2 separate regions of the Homo sapiens genome follow, and region 2 is linked to region 1. The links come from fine-mapping of genetic effects on gene expression. A gene starts in region 1. The other region holds a variant in brackets. All regions are shown on one strand. Distances are between the middles of the regions.

Region 1 (8,000 bases):
GAATTTTCCAAGCTAATGAAAGACCTCAAAACACATATTCAACAAATTCTACAAACTCCATTAAGATAAATATAAAGAAAGCCACATCTAGACATATCACACTAAAACTGCTTCAAGGCAAGACAAAAGACAAAAATTGTACACTGCATAAGAAAACAAAACTCAACTTTTCATTCAACTTTTCATTCCAAAGTGGTTACCTAGGAAGGCTAATTGGTTTTGTCTCCTTACTGGGTTCTCCACCTTCACTTTTCCTCCCTTCTAAACCATTCTCCAAACTGCAGTTAGGTTGATCTTTCTACAGTTTAAGTAGCATCACTTCCGTCCTCTGCATAAATGTTACTGTGACTTCTCATTCCCTCAGAATAAAGTTCAATTTCCTTATTACAGTTTGAGCGGCCCTCTTGGAACTGGTGTCTGTCCACCTTCCTAGCTTCTTTTCTCACTACTACATGTTGAGTATCTCTCATCTGAAATGTTTGGGACCACAAGTTTTTCAGATTTTGGACATTTTTGGATTTTGGAATATTTGAGTATACAGAATGAGATACCTTAGGAATGAGACCCAAGTATAAACACAAAAGTCATTTGTTTTATACAAATCTTATTTTTATTTATTTACTTATTTATTTCTTAGACAGAGTCTCACTCTGTCGCCCAGGATGGAGTGCAGTGGCGTGATCTTGGCTCACTGCAACCTCCGCCTTCCAGGTTCAAGCGATTCTCCTGCCTCAGCCTCTCGAGTAGCTGGGACTACAGGTGCGTGCCACCATGTTGGCTAATTTTTTTTTGGTATTTTTAGTAGAGACGGGGTTTCACCATGTTAGCCAGGATGGTCTTGATCTGCTGACCTTGTGATCCACCTGTCTTGGCCTCCCAAAGTGCTGGGATTACAGGCATGAGCCACTGCGCCCAGCCTTTAAACACACCTTATACACCTAAGCTGAAGATAATTGTATTGACTGATTGATTGATTGATTGATTGAGACGGAGTCTCCCTCTGTCGCCCAGGCTGGAGTACAGTGGAGCAATCTCAGCTCACTGCAACCTTCACCTCCTGGGTTCAAGCAATTATCCTGCCTCAGCTCCCGTGTAGCTGAGCTCACAAGTGTATGCCACCACGCCCAGCTAATTTTTTTTTTTTCAGATGGAGTTTCACTCTTGTTGCTCAGGCTGGAGTGCAATGGTGCAATCTTAGCTCACTGCAACTTCCATCTCCTGGGTTCAAGCGATTCTCCTACCTCAGCCTCCCAAATAGCTGGGATTACAGGCGCCCACCACCATGCCTGGCTAATTTTTTGTATTTTTAGCAGAGACAAGGTTTCACCATACTGGCCAGGGTTGTCTCGAAGTCCTGACCTCAGGTGATCTGCCTGCCTTGGCCTTTCAAACTGCTGGAATTACAGGTGTGAGCTATCACTCCCTGCCTGAAGATAATTTTATACTAGGTCGATGCAAAAGTAATTGAAGTTTTTGCCATTGCTTTTAAAGGCAAAACCTCAATTACTTTTGCACCGACCTAATACAAATTTTTAATTTTATGCATGAAACAAAGTTTGTATACATTGAACCATCAGAAAGCAGAGGTGTCACCATGTGAGCTACTGATATGGACAATCTGTGATTGTCTGGCATCATCATCATTCCTGTCTCTGAATATATATGCTACCCATAAGCAATTTTTTTCTTATACCATTCACACTTAAGTACTTAACAGTAAAAAGTATGGCATACCCTTAATACAGTGAAAAAATAATGTGTTCAGGGTACCTAAATAGGGCAGTATCATCCCCAGAATACCTATATTAGCTGTTAAACAACAACAATAACAAACAATGGCAGGCTTTCAGTTTCTACCCATGTTTTGTCTGCAATCCATCACATGAAGTCAAGTGCAGAGTTCTCCACTTGTGGCATCACGTCACCACTCAAGTTTTCAAATTTTGGGGGCTGGGCATGGTGGCTCACACCTGTAATCTCAGCATTTTGGTAGGCCAAGGGAGGCAGATCACTTGAGGTCAGGAGCTTGAGACCAGCCTGGCCAACATGGTGAAACCTCGCCTCTACTAAAAATACAAAAATTAGTTGGACATGGTGGCAGATGCCTGTAATCCCAGCTACTCAGGAGGCTGAGACAGGAGAATTGCTTGAACCTGCAGCAGAGGTTGCAGTGAGCCGAGATGGTGCCACTGCACTCCAGCCTGGGTGACAGAGTGAGACTCTGTCTCCAAAAAAAAAAAAAAAAAAAATTCAAATTTTGGGCTGGGTGCAGTGGCTCACACATGCCTGTTATCCCAGCACTTTGGGAGGCCGAGGTGAGAAGATCACTTGAGCTCAGGAGTTTGAGACCAGCCTGAGCAACATGGTGAAACCCCATCTCTTAATAAGAAGACAAAAAAGAATAAGAAAATACTTTTTTTTTTCAGATTTTGGAGCATTTCAGATTTCAGGTTAGGAATGCTCAATCCATATCTCTCTAGAATTCTATACTCCACTGGCTTTTAATTCCTCCAAATTGCTTTATTCTCACCCACAACAGGACCTTTGCACATGTTGTTCCCGTTCTTTGGAACTTTCTCCCTTCATTTCATATTCCTTTTCCTGGCTTTCCAACCTTACGTCAGATTATAGTTTGAACGTCGTCTTCTCTGGGAAAATTTTCAGTTTTCCTAGACTTGGTAATTACCCCCACAGAGGGCAGAAATTTGCCCCTTATATCCTGAAATTCCCCCATCAAAGCGTCTATCATGCTTTATGACTATTATTTGTCTATTTCCCTTTATTATAGACAGTAAGATCCAAAGGGGTAGAAATTGTGTAATGTTTTTCTCACAATTGTCTCCCTAGTCCTCAGCCTGGCTCAAAGTAGATATTCAATCTATAATTTGAAAACTTACTTATTAACAGTAGAAAACCCTCAGTCTTCAAGATAGTTCATCATACCTTACTTCTCTATGTAGCTATTTTTTTCTTTTCCTTTAGAACCTTTCTAGAGAAAGATGTATGGGAATTGAATGTAATTTAAATTTTTAAAAATCCTCTCAACATTTTCTAGATTTTACTGCAATAAAAATAAAAATGTAAATGAAAAGTATGAATATTCATATCATAGGCCCCACCCCTGCTATCCCAATTCCACAGTTTAAAGTACTCACTTGCTTTCTTCCATGCAAAAAAGTATGATTATACTACTCGCATCCTCAAATGACACTCTGCCTTTTCAGTCACTCCAGGATCCGGTTCCAAAATGGACTTCCTTGTTTTTTGTGGCCTTTTGTGGCTCCTTTCCAGTTTTTATCACAGACTTTGTTTTTCTCTGCTTCCTTCTCTGCTTCCTCTTCTCAGCTAAGCACAGCTTCCTCTGTCATGTTCTATAAACCTGCCACCGTTGATGAGTCTTTTAACGTGCCATCTGATTCAGTCGGCTCTTTCATGACCTTTTAGGTTCTACCTCAAATTTTAGTGGCAAACAATTTTTTTGTTACTTGTTACTTCCTCTCTCCTTGTAATTCATTTCTTAGTAATTAACTCTTCAAACACAGGGCAGAATTGAATGCCCTCACTTTGCCATCATCTAATTTTTGTCTGTGCGAAGAATAGTACCTGGCACCCAGTAAATAGAATCATTTTTATTCTATTTATTAAATTTATTAAATATATTATTTATTGAATAATTATTTATTTATTGAATAAATTTATTCAATTTGTTGAATAAATTCCTCAGCATGTACCTTATGACAGCCTGCTTACATCAGTTTAGATTGCTTTGTTCTTCATATGTCACAGATAAACATTTAAAACTTCATTGTGTACCTGGAAGTTGATACTTAATAAAAATTTTATTTCAATATGTACATTGTGACCCAAACCAATTATAGGCATTCCTTCTTGTCATTGTTGTTCAGAAGTGTGAGGTTTCCTTTTGTTACTTTTAATTAAAAAATTGAGACTTTATTTGCTTTGGATATGAGGCCTAGGCTTTATAATGTCGCCTTTAATGGAAACAACAAATACAGTAACTTCATTTAAAAGTAAACAATAGTGACAAATTCACCCTGTAAATCAAATTGCTGGTATTTATAAACACAGGTGGCAAGTTACTAGGTACGAAGGGTTCGTGGTCCAGGGGAAAATATGCCAGCAGAGTGCAGAGACAATGTCTAGGTACCGGCCCTAATTTAATATTTGGTGTATGTAAAGATCTTCGTGAGTGCTGGGCTGGCAACAGCAGGGGTTTGATGGGATGAAAAAGTAAGGTTAGCTGGATTTCAGGTTCAGGAAGAAACCAGGATGAGGACATTAGAAGATGAACTCAGCAAGTATGTAGGAATAGGCATAGGAGATGAACTCAGCAAGAATGAAGGGATATCCGAATCTTGGGAAAGGGTGGGAAAATAACCTAGAGAACTATGGATTGAAGGAAATTGAAGAGGAAAAATAGCAAGGACTTAGGCCCAGGACGGCTTTGAATGCGGCTCAGCACAAATTCGTAAACTTCTTAAAACATGATGAGATTTTTTAAAAGTTTCATCAGCTACCATTAGCGTTAGAATATTTTATATGTGGTCCAAGACAATTTTTCTCCTTCCAATGTAGCCCAGGGAAGCCAAAAGATTGGACACCCTTGGCTTAGATGGTGGAGTCAAGGGAACTAAAGATATGACCCCAGTGTGCCAATGCCAAAGGTGAGAAGAGAAAGCAAAGAAAGCAGGCCTTTAAAGAGGTAGAGGAATCCTCAAAGGTGGAAAGAAACAGGGATAGGATGCTGCCCAAGAGGCAGGGACAAAGAATCGGAGCCAAAGACTGCGGTAAAAATGTGGGAAGGTGATGTCCACGATGTTCGAACGAGTCCGTGGCCGAAGGAAGTAAGAGTCTGGGTTTCTGGAGGTTTTCATACAGAGAACTGGGATTTAGATTTCGGGCTGGAAAAATATATTTTGGACTCTCAGGGGCTTTCAGGGTAAGAGTTCGGTAGAGTTCAGTCAGCTTGGCGGAGACAGGTAGTCAGTTAATGTTGGAAGGAAAATTCGGACAGCTGGGAATTAATTTCAACGGGTTTAGGGTGATTTCGGCAAGGGCTGGCGGGGCTAGGGTCGAGTGTGAATTTCGTCTTGGGTGGTCCACGCGTCTGGTTTGGGCAGGAATTTCTGTGGGCAGCGAGGCGTATTCAGGCAGCGTTGCGGGTGAATCTGCGTGGGATGAGGGTGGATTTCCTTCAGGACTGCGGTGCATTTCAGGCCGGGGTGGAGGTGCCTCACAGCCGCGGCGCAGGGAATTCCCTCTAGGATGGGGGAGCGGGTCGGGCGGCGCCGGCCAGGGAGGGGAAGTCCAACGGGGGTTCGGAGAGGCTCGGGGGACTCGGACGGAGAGAAGCCGGGTCGCGGCTGCGGAGGCTCGGCCGGCCAAGGGATTTCCGCGACGTTCAGCGCTGCGAGCTGCGCGGCGCTGCGGCCCCTCCCGTCCCGGGGGAACCTGTTGCCGGCGAAACAGGCGGGCGGTGGCGACGATGGAGAAGCCTTCCTCGCCTCTGCCTGGCTGCACGGCAGCCCTTTCACCTTAGGCACGCTCCGCGGCGCGGCCCCTCCCTCCGCTCCTTCGTTTAAAACAAACAGAATACGCCGCCGCCAACCCTAGCCTGCCAACGGCGAGCACGGTCGCCTCCCGTGCCGCTTCCGGGAGCCGAGGCGCGGCCCCGCCGCCCGGGGAGGAGGAGGCGGAGGGGGAGGAGGCCAACATGGCGGCGCGCAGGGCTGGGCCGGGCCGCAGCCGCGCCTGAGCGCCTCACCGCACTAGCTCGGCTCGCAGGACCCAAGCCCGCACCCAGCCTGGCCCGGCTGCTGCGGAGCACCCGGGGCAGGAACGCAGGGGCCAACCTGGGCGCGGAGGCGGCGCGGAGGGTGCGCCGCGCGGCCCGCCAGGCCCGGGACCCGTAGCTTCGCCGTGCGCTGGCCGGGGCGGCCAGGAGGCCCAAGCCATGGAATCGGAGGAGGAGCAGCACATGACCACGCTGCTGTGCATGGGCTTCTCAGACCCCGCCACCATCCGCAAGGCCCTGCGCCTGGCCAAGAACGACATTAACGAGGCCGTGGCACTGCTCACCAACGAGCGGCCGGGCCTCGACTACGGCGGCTACGAGCCCATGGACAGCGGCGGTGGCCCCAGCCCCGGGCCCGGCGGGGGCCCGCGGGGCGACGGCGGAGGTGACGGCGGCGGCGGCGGCCCCTCCCGCGGCGGGAGCACCGGAGGCGGGGGCGGCTTCGACCCCCCGCCCGCCTACCACGAGGTGGTGGACGCGGAGGTGAGGAGGGGCAACCCCAGACCTCTGTGGGAAGCCACTGGGCTGGAGTTCCTGGGAGGGGACACACCCCGCTGGGCTTGGTGTGGGGAGAGAGGGCATTCGACTGGGGCTTTAGTGGGGGCGGGGCGGAGAGAGAGAGAGAAGCCCCAGGCTCCAGTTGGGAACCGAAGTCACTTGATTGGGGGTAAGTGGGGAGAGGGACCCATAGGAGAGGCGTGTGAAAGGGAATTAGGGATGCGCAGCGGAGCTGTGGGTTGGGGTGAGGAGGGGTCCCTTAGGCTTCCGGCTATGCACGCCGACGATGGGGAGGAGGCTCCAGGGCTATCATCCGAGATGGGAGGACAGACACTTGAGCATATAGTGGGAAGGATGCGTGCAGTAGGGGGTCGGAAATGGGGTACTAGTGCACTAGGCTAGGTCGGAGATTTTGTGGCACGAGGTTTCAGTGAAGGATTGGCGGAGGCACCAGGCTCAGAGTCAGAAAAAGCGGTGTGGGCCGGCCAGAGTAGTGGTCTTTGACAGGATCACAGGAAAACTGTTGGGGTTAGGAGTGAGGTTGGGGTTTTAGCCAAGGGTCGGAAAGGGGGGGCATTGAGTAGGATTTAAAATGAAGAGGGAAGGGGCCGCGGCCAGGAATGAGGACTTGAATAAAATCAGGTATGAGAGCAGTGGGGATTGCACTGAGAGGGCAGAGGTGGGAGGCCTGGGCAGGGGTGGGAGCTGAGGAGGGTCTAGGCAGGGATGGGGACTGGAATTGGAAGATAGAGCTGGCACCAGGTCTGGGTAAAGAGGGAGTACTGGTCATCGATAAGGTCAGAAATGAGAGAAAATTAGACCGGGGAAAGAGATGGTAGTCATACTGAGGGTGCTATGCAGAGGGGCGCGGAACAGGGTGGGAGCGCAGTGGGGGTGGAGGAGGAGTCTTGAGGCTAATGGCTTTGATCAGAGACCTCAAGTCTAGGTGGAGAAGACTATGCCTGTTTAGTTTGGGGTGTGAGCAAGGAACGTGGGGGAAGAAAACGGACTCTTCTATAATAAAGAAAAAAGATCGACCAGAAGCAGCAGTGCTTTTGAATAATTACTTTGCAGAAACATAGTAGCTCATGGCAGGAATTTTGGTCAGATTCGTTGGGTAGTTCATTTCAGGGGCCAGTAGAGCAGCTTGGCCTGACCACAGAAAAGCACAGATCTCAAATTATTGGGATTGCGTTATTAGGTAGAGATACGAATTTGGTTCGTTCTTAATGAAGAATTAAGCTTAGTGAAGCTAAGCCTTTTGAAACACTTTTTCCTGAGCAGTGTTATATCCTTTTAATTGTATGCTTTTGCAACAGTTCCTCGGGCTGAAGTAGCTTGAACAAGAAGGTGGCACTTAAAAAGAACAGGTTTCTGCACAAGATTTCTTTGGCTTCCACACTTAGACACAGTTGCTAGATTGCCCTCTGTAACCCACTAACTTAGCTGTATCGTTGACTAGTATATGGAAATAAAGATTGTTACTATTCCTAGTTTGGGAATTTTTTTAAATTCCCATATAATTGAGTAACCATACTTAAGTCATTTTAAGAAATCAGCTTCTCATTGGCAGTTCCTATCACTCCTCCCTCGTTCCTTCTAGTTTTTGACCCAGTTTTGAAATCAAGAAGAAAGCCGTTGCTTTTTCAGAAGGTGTTTGTATAACTCTGCAAAGCTCAGTGTATCC
Region 2 (8,000 bases), 160 kb after region 1:
AACAGACCCAGCCACACAGAGACACATATACATGCTGTCCACACAATGGCGGAAGCTGCCCACAGCATCTACCTGGCAAACCGCCACCCTGATGCATGGCGGTATGGTGGTGGCACAAACTGACACAGAAAAGCTGTGCAGGAGAGACACGCAGCACCCCACCCACCCGGCCTCACGGGCCTCTTCACCTGCTCCTGAGGGGCCGGGATTCCATGCTCCTTGACTTTGCATTCCAGACCTGGGGCATGGCAGCAGGAAGCGTGGATGCTGGCCTCCCTGTGGCCCACGCACTGGTTGGGCTGACCTCGTGGCCTCAGCACAGGCGGCTTGTGGGTGCCAAGGTCCTCCACCTCCCAGTGGGAGCTGCAGCCTGGGGCAGAGGAAAGCCAGCTCAGATGTGAAATGCTGGGATGCTCCGTCTCCAGTGCCCATCCCCATCAGACCCTCTCTCTTTAAGGTCTGAGGCAAGAGCTAGGAAACCTAGAAACAACTCAAAGAAAAAAAGAGATGCTGGCCTGAGCACCAGGACTCCTGTGTTCTCAACTCTGCAGCTGACCAGCTGTGTGACCTTGGGAGAGCCATTCAACCTCTCTGAGCCTTAGTTTCTCAGGGAAAACACCATCTTTCCACCCAGAGATGGAGACAGTGAGGCAGGGGCTCTATGGCCTGAGATGCTCAAACTCCCCCCAGCCCCTCCCTATGCAGCCAGCAGGCAGAAGTTCAAGGGTAAGCCGGGGTCTGTCTGAACCACCTCAGAATGCCCTCCATGGGCTTAGGAGTCAGACACACCCATTGGCTAAGAAACCTAAAATAGTGGTTACTTAGCTACACTGAGGCTCTGTTTACTCATTTGTAAGATGGAAAGAGAAACCACACCTACTCACAGGGACACTGTGAAGATGACACGTGCGAAGCCCCAGCATGGAGCCTGGCATGTGCTCTGAACATGGTAGGGTTGTGGTTACTAGCATTCTCTATGTCCTAGCTGCAAGGGCTCGGGGCAGCCACTCAGCATGTCCAGCCTGCAGTTCCCTTAGCTGCAAAATGGTGCTCTTTGAGGTGCGCTTCATGGAGTCAGATTCCATGACTTCAAACTGACATGTGCCTGTGAGCTCATCGGCTGAGCACTTCCAAAGGGGAGCGTGATTAGAGCATGGCGGACTTCCCTCCAAGCCAGGACCCCTGAACCTGACGGAGCCTCTCCCCTGGACAAGGGCACCAGCCACCTGACTATGCTCATCTTTCCTGAACATCCATCCTACATGCCAGCCTGCTGTGCCCAGAACCAGGTTCTCACCCTCACTCTCCTGTTCCCAAACCCTCAGTGGTTCCCCTGGACGTGCTCAGACGAGAATCAACTCTGAGCCTCTTATTCCAGGCTGGAGTCCCACTGTCTTCCCAGACCTCTCATGCTCCACCCAACCAGAACAGCTCAGCCTCAGGGCACCATCCCTTGATGCCCCAAGAGGTCCCCATCTGTGACTTCCTGCTACCTGCCTGGGCATGTTTTCGACACAGGGTAGCCCGTCAATAGTTGCCTATACCAGAGGCTGGATTTTAAAGCAACGGGTGATGAAAACAATAGTAACGATAGCTAGAATTTATATTGTCCCGGCACTAAGCTAAGTGCTTAGCACTCATCATTTCCTCATACAGAGATGTTAAGTAATTTGCCCAAGTCACACAGCTATAGAGCGGCAGGGTGAAATTCAAACCGAGGTCTGCCCTCCTTTCAGCCCCAGCCGGGGGCCTCTCTCTGGAGCTGCCTCTCCTGGACTGCACCACCTTAGGCAAAGCACCTGCGATACTCCAGGCCAGTGCCCTAGATGCTGCCCATCTCCTTGCAACACAATGAGGCAGGTAATACCTTTTTCCCTCTTATGGAGGAGGAAGCTGAGATGAGGAGAAGTAAGGTCACCTGCCCAGGCTCAAAGGGCATGGAAGTGGCAGAACCAGAGTATGGAACTGCAAGTCAGGCTTGAGTCTCATGGATCACACTTGTGAGGACCAAGCCTCGCGGGCAGTGGGTGCATAAGGAGAAAGAGACCCCTCCTCACCCCAGGGCAAGCCCAGCCTCCTACCTGTGAGGACGTGGCCCTGTTGGTGGCAGTGGACACGGGTCCCCATGCTGGCCTCAGCTGGTGGAGCTGTGTGGACGCTGCAGTTGGCCTGGGGTAGCAGGCAGCACCTGGCAATGGCGTAGACACCCTCACCCCCAAAAGCGTTGTGGGCCCGGCAGACCAGCTTGCCCCCTTGGGCCTTAGAGTCAAAGACGGAAATGGGAATCTGCTTTAGAATGGGCTTTGAAAACACAGAAAGGGACTAGACAGGATCAACTCAAGCACCCTCATCAGTGTCCCTGCCAGGGGCCAGCCAGACCCAGCCTTCTGGGGACAAGGAGCTCACTCCTGCCCAAGGAAGACTGTTCTGCCAGTGGGCAGCTCTGAATACTCAAAAGTTCTTCCAAACACAGAGTGGTTTCAAAATGGAGATAGAGAGAAATCCAGGAGGCCAAAGCAAGGATCCAGCCAGCTCCACTCCACCCACTCTGCCTCTCACACGAGCATTAAGACCCCATCTCCTCAAGCCAGAAATGCCTGCCCCTCCTCACTCTCCTAGCTGGGCACTGCCCTTCCACCAAAATGCTGCAACCAGATGGCATCTGTGCACTATCCTGTAGCATCAACATCAATTCCACTTTTTTGCTGGTTTGAGATTTCTCAGCTCCCAGAACCATGGAGCACCTGAGTGAGAGGGGCCTAGAGATGGCTGAGTCCAGAGTAGCAGATCGCTGACCCTCACGCGGCCCTGCCGCACGCTCACACCCAGGTGAGCATTGAAAATCCATCCAGCACTGTCCTGCAGCCTCTAGGAAACCCTTCCCGCTGTGGCTCTCTCCAGCAGCCCCCAGCCGCGTGAAGTGAGGAGTGCCCCACTCCTGGTCTGGCCAGCCCTGTAAGCTTACAGAAGAGCTGGAGTCTGGAGGATGGAGGGGCTTGCTGGGGGTCCCTGAGGGCCCAGCACTGACACACACACACACACACACACACACACACACACACACACACACACACACACGAAGGAGGGGTACAGTCACCTCCATGCGCTCGCCCCGCCGCTTCCCACTCCTGGAGAAACTGGAGCAGCTCAGCAGCTCCTCATCTGGGGCGCAGCGGGCGACGGCTGTGGCCATCCGTGTAGGCCCCGAGTGTGCTGACCATACAGTCCTGCAAAACAGCTGCCAACCTGCAAAAAGGGCCTGGGATGAGGAGGGGGTGCTGGGAGTGAGGGGACCTCCACAGAAATCTTTAGTTCATGGTAGGAGAGAGGAGGGCTTAAAGAACATACTCAACTGTCTCTATAAAAACACGTTATGAAAATATTGCACAGCCCTTTCAGAGCCCCATTCTCATTTAATCCTATTTAAGGTGGCGTCATCCTCCTTACACAGACAAGGGAGAAGGGAGAGACTGTCAAGGTCACACAGACCTCCCAAGCCCCAGCCTGGACTTGCCCACCCTGCCATCCTGCTTACCTGCCCCATGGGTGCTGGGGGGCAGGGCGGCCACCAGGTTGGGGGTCAGTACCCGCTGGTCCTCAGGGAACCAGGCCTCATTGATGACATCTTTGGCAGAGAAGTGGATCAGTCTCTGCCTCAACTCGGCCAGGGTGAGCTCCGGCTCGGCAGACAGCATCATGGCTGCAATGCCTGGTGCAGGGGTGAATGGTGAAAGATGGTGATGGCCCGGCCCTCCTGCCCCAGCAGGGGACTCCTGCCAGTGCACACACGCACACACATACACACAAACACACGTGCACACAGACACTAAGCTCTCTTCTCGAAGGTAAGCCGCCTGCAGTCCTTACTCAGTGAGGTAAGACAGCCTCCTCTCACACCTCTAAGCCTTGGTAGTTGCTGTCTTATCGGCCAGGTGAACTCCTATTCATCCATCAAGCTCCCGATCAAATGTCCCTCCTCCAAGATGCCTTCTCTGACCCTCGGGCTGGGCAGGTGCCTCCTCTGGGCTCCCTCTAATACAGCCCTGACCTCGTGTTTCCTCTGTGCACTCGCCTCCCTCATCAGACTGAGTGTCCTTGAAGGCACCATCAGGCCTACTTCATCTCTGGTCCCCCTGCACAGAGCCTGGCACTGGAGGTCCCGGCACAGACCCTGACTGCCAAAGGGGCTGTTAGCATCACGGTGGCCGAGGCAGTGGGGTGGTGACTTACCAGCCACGTGGGCAGCAGCCTGTGATGTCCCACTCTGTGACACAAAGCAGGTGCTGCAGTCGCTGGAGGCACCAATGATGTCCTCCCCTGGGGCAAAGAGGTCCACACAGCGGCCAAAGTTGGTCCCCAAAGTCCCCAGGGTCACCGGCTGGTCTTGGGCATTGGTGGCCCCAACTGTGATGACCTGGAAAGGTGAGGAGGTGGGTGGCAGAGAAAGGAGCCCAAGAGAGGGGTTGCAGAGGCAGACTCAGGCCTTGCCAGCTGGGCTGGACAACTGCTATACACCTGTTTGGGTCCCACTCAAATGTCCCCTCCTAAGGAAAATCTGACTGCCCAGGCAGAACTCTGGCACCCCTGCCCCGCCCTGGTGCTCCCCTCTGTCCCTACCATAGCCAGGCAGCATTCCCAATGCCCCTGTGGAGTTTACATCCTAGTGGGGGAGATAG[G/ACCGG]AAACTATTCGGTGTATCAAGTGGTTCTAAGTGCCACGGGGGGAAACTGAGAGGACAAGGCAGAGATGTGTTGGGCTTTGTTTGCTTGATGCCTTTAAATTCGGCCGCCAGGGAAGCCTTGATAGGCCAGGGGGGACCTAGGTTACCGCTGTCAGGTACGCATCTGCTCTGCAACCCCCACCCCCAACGCGCGCGCGCGCACGCACACACACAGACTTGAAGTTCCAGACTTGAAGTGGAACAAGATTCCTTCCCCTAGATACCCGCAGTGTCCTGACACTGGAGGAGTGGTGGGTCAGAGGAGGGACGGTCACTGCCCCCCAGCTCCTCAGGGCCGAGGCTCCGTGTCTGTGTCCCCGCAGCCACACTGCACCGGGCATGCGGCACACTCTGTGGATGTTCCTCGGGTGAGAGGTCTGAGCCCTCAACCGCTCCCATTCACATTAGCCTTGCTCAAGTTGTCAGTCATGGAGCCGCGGAGAGAGCTGGACAACAGGGAGGCCCAAAGAGTATTGGGCAGAGGACGCAGGGCCTGGGGATGGAGATGGGGAGGGGGCGGGTACCAGAAGACCTTCAGGAGGGAGAGTGGCCAGGACGGGGTGTGGGGGCGTGGCTACGTAGGCGCCGCTACGTGGGCGCATGGCGGGGCCACTGCTATTCAGACTCTGCGATGATGGAGGTTTCGAGCCCCTTCCTCCCCAGCCTCCCGCATGGCGGGGGTCTCTGACGACTCCTTCCAAAGCCAGAAGGGTTCGGCCTCCAGGAACGTGCCACAAGAAGCCCACGTGCCACAAGAAGCCCGCCTGCCCGCCCGCCCTCCCTCCGCCCTCCGCCCTCCGCCCCCTACCCGCGCCTTGGGGCAGCAGCCCCAGCACCTACCTCGGGAGCTGAGGCTGGGGAGTAGAGGCAGGCATCGTCCCGGAAGTTGCCGGCAGCGGTGACCAGCACGACCCCAGCCCTCGCCAGGCGCTGGCAGGCGGCGTTGAGGACGCGGCTGTACCCACCCGCCAGGGGCAGCAGCACCACCAGTGGCCCCACAGGCTGGACCAGCTGGCTTTTCCGAATAAACTCCAGGCCTGGGAGGAACAAAGCCAAGGTCACCCCTTGGGGAGACCTGCTCCCCTTTCCCAGCCCCTCCCTTACAGGCACAGAGTGATGGTTAATTTTGGGGATCAACTTTGTGGCCTGATGTTTGGTCAAAAGCCAGTGGAAATGCTGCTGCGAAAATATTTTTTAGATGTGACTAACATTTAAATCAGAAGACGGAGTAAGGCAGGTTACTCTCTATAACTTGGGCAGGCCTCATTTAATCAGTTGAAGGCCTTAAGAGAACAGACTGAGGCCTCCCAGGGAAGAAGGAATTCTGCCCCAGGACTGCCTTAGGACTCAGTATTGCAACATCAAATTCTGCAGGAATTGCCAGCCTGCCTGGCCTGCCCTGCGGATTTCAGACTTGCCAGCCCGCACGGTCACATGAGCTTGAAACTCTTAATATATACATCCTACTGGTTCTGCTTCTCTGCAGAACCTTGACCAATACAAACTGGAAGATATTAGCAATTACACCAGCAATCAAACTAGCCAACCCCGGGCCCTTCTCTGTGCCTGGCTCTGTCTAAGCGTCTGAATATACGAACTCAGGGGATCCTCACAATAACCTTATTATCCCTTTCCATGAAAGAGAGGCACCAAGAGGATGAGCCTCAGAGGAATGAGAAGGGCACACTTCCCCACCCAACTTCCCCCGCCACTCTCTGAGGCCTGGCTCAGATGCCCCTCCACCGTGGCCGCAAGTGTTGGACCCACACAAACTTGAACAGAGTCTTGGCTGCCCACTCACCAGCTGTGTGGCCCCGCCCTCTGTGAAACAGGGACAGTTGCTCCCAGGATTGTCTAAAGAATTAAAAGACTCCATGCCTAGGACCCCCCATACCATAACTCCCCACCCTTGAGGGTGTGGTTCCTTCTGGCCTCAGTGGCACTCCACTCCCCCATTTTGGTGCAGGCCATGGTCTACCTCATGCTACTGTCAACAGTAACAGCTCTTTTTTTTTTTTTTCTTTCCAGACGGAGTCTCGCTCTATTGCCCAGGCTGGAGTGCAGTGGCGCAATCTCGGCTCACTGCAAGCTCCGCCTCCCGGGTTCACGCCATTCTCCTGCCTCAGCCTCCTGAGTAGCTGGGACTACAGGCGCCTGCCACCACGCCCGGCTAATTTTTTGTAGTTTTAGTAGAGACGGGGCTTCACCGTGTTAGCAAGGATGGTCTCGATGTCCTGACCTCATGATCCTCCCGCCTTGCCCTCCCAAAGTGCTAAGATTACAGGCGTGAGCCACTGCACCCAGCCACCAGTAACAGTTCTAACCCTCTGCCAGCCTGTGAGCTCTGGCCCAGTGGCCTGGAGACTGGAGGCCTAACGCAGCTCTGGCCCTGATGTGCAAGGGGACCTGGAACTGACAGCTTCTCCCCTGTCAAATGAGGTGTGGGAGCCTTCTGGATCCTGGCCTCTAAGATGTCTCCAGGAGCCGTGGCCAAGGATGGAGCTGGAATCTCACAGCCATGCTCCTCCTAGGAGACAGCTAGTGAGGCCCCTCACACCACGGAGGGAGGGAGTGGAGTGGCACTGAGTGTGGAGGTGAAGAACAACAGCCACATTTACAGCTGCTAGTTATTTACTTATTTATTTTTGAGATGGAATCTCGCTCTATCACTCAGGCTGGATTGCAGTGGCACGATCTCAGCTCACTGCAACCTCCACCTCCTGGGTTCAAGCGATTCTCCTGCCTTAGCCTCCCAAGTAGCTGGGATACAGACACCCACCACCATGCCTGGCTAATTTTTGTATTTTTAGTAGAGACGGGGTTTCACCATGTTGAACAGGCTGGTCTCGAACTCCTGACCTCAGGTGATCTGCCCACCTCGGCCTCCCAAAGTGCTGGGATTACAGGCATGAGCCACCGCGCCCAGCCTACAGCTGCTAGTTATTAAGCACCTGCTGTGTGCTTATCTCTGTGCTCAGACTGGACACACAATCACCTGCTTACAGAGGAGGAAATGGCAGTGGCAAGGAAGGCAATAGTGACTGTTGAGCCCCTGCCCCGTGCCAGGTCATGCAATAAGGGCTTCCCATACACTGACTGGGACCCCAAAGAAGGGACTTCTCCAGGAAGTCCTCCAGAGGCCAGAGCACCAGGCCTGGGGAAGGCCTTTCTGGGAAAGAACAGCCTCCCCTCCACACACTGACCTTCAGGAACTGACCTGACTGAGCCGAGGTCAGTCAATAAAGGGGTGGGACAGGCACAAGGGGTCACCTGATGGGGCAGAAG

Direction of the effects. Positions count from the first base shown, and alleles are read on the strand shown. Sizes are in standard deviations (SD) of each study's normalised expression.
In carriers of allele ACCGG in region 2, the expression in T cells of the gene that starts at base 3,227 in region 1 tends to be higher than with G alone (moderate effect, 0.61 SD a copy in GENCORD).

What was found.
Region 2: its variant is fine-mapped to the expression of MIR4422HG in T cells (GENCORD, PIP 0.95).

The regions. Positions count from the first base shown.
Region 1 is chr1:55,213,088-55,221,087 of GRCh38, reverse strand. It overlaps MIR4422HG (MIR4422 host gene), which reads right to left and starts at 3,227. Exons shown (of 2, transcript NR_146283.1): 1 at 3,156-3,227. It overlaps USP24 (ubiquitin specific peptidase 24), which reads left to right and starts at 5,724. Exons shown (of 68, transcript NM_015306.3): 1 at 5,724-6,298. The coding sequence starts at 5,975. It overlaps LOC100507634 (a long non-coding RNA gene), which reads right to left and starts at 5,680. Exons shown (of 1, transcript NR_038320.1): 1 at 3,633-5,680. RefSeq lists silencers at 5,547-6,056, 6,127-6,316 and an enhancer at 6,777-6,836.
Region 2 is chr1:55,053,745-55,061,744 of GRCh38, reverse strand. It overlaps PCSK9 (proprotein convertase subtilisin/kexin type 9), which reads right to left. Exons shown (of 12, transcript NM_174936.4): 6 at 5,556-5,752; 7 at 4,231-4,414; 8 at 3,536-3,709; 9 at 3,098-3,246; 10 at 2,082-2,259; 11 at 189-370. Among named protein-coding and RNA genes, the nearest start is that of PCSK9, 18 kb to the right of the region's middle. The variant G/ACCGG (reference allele first, on the strand shown) is at 4,677.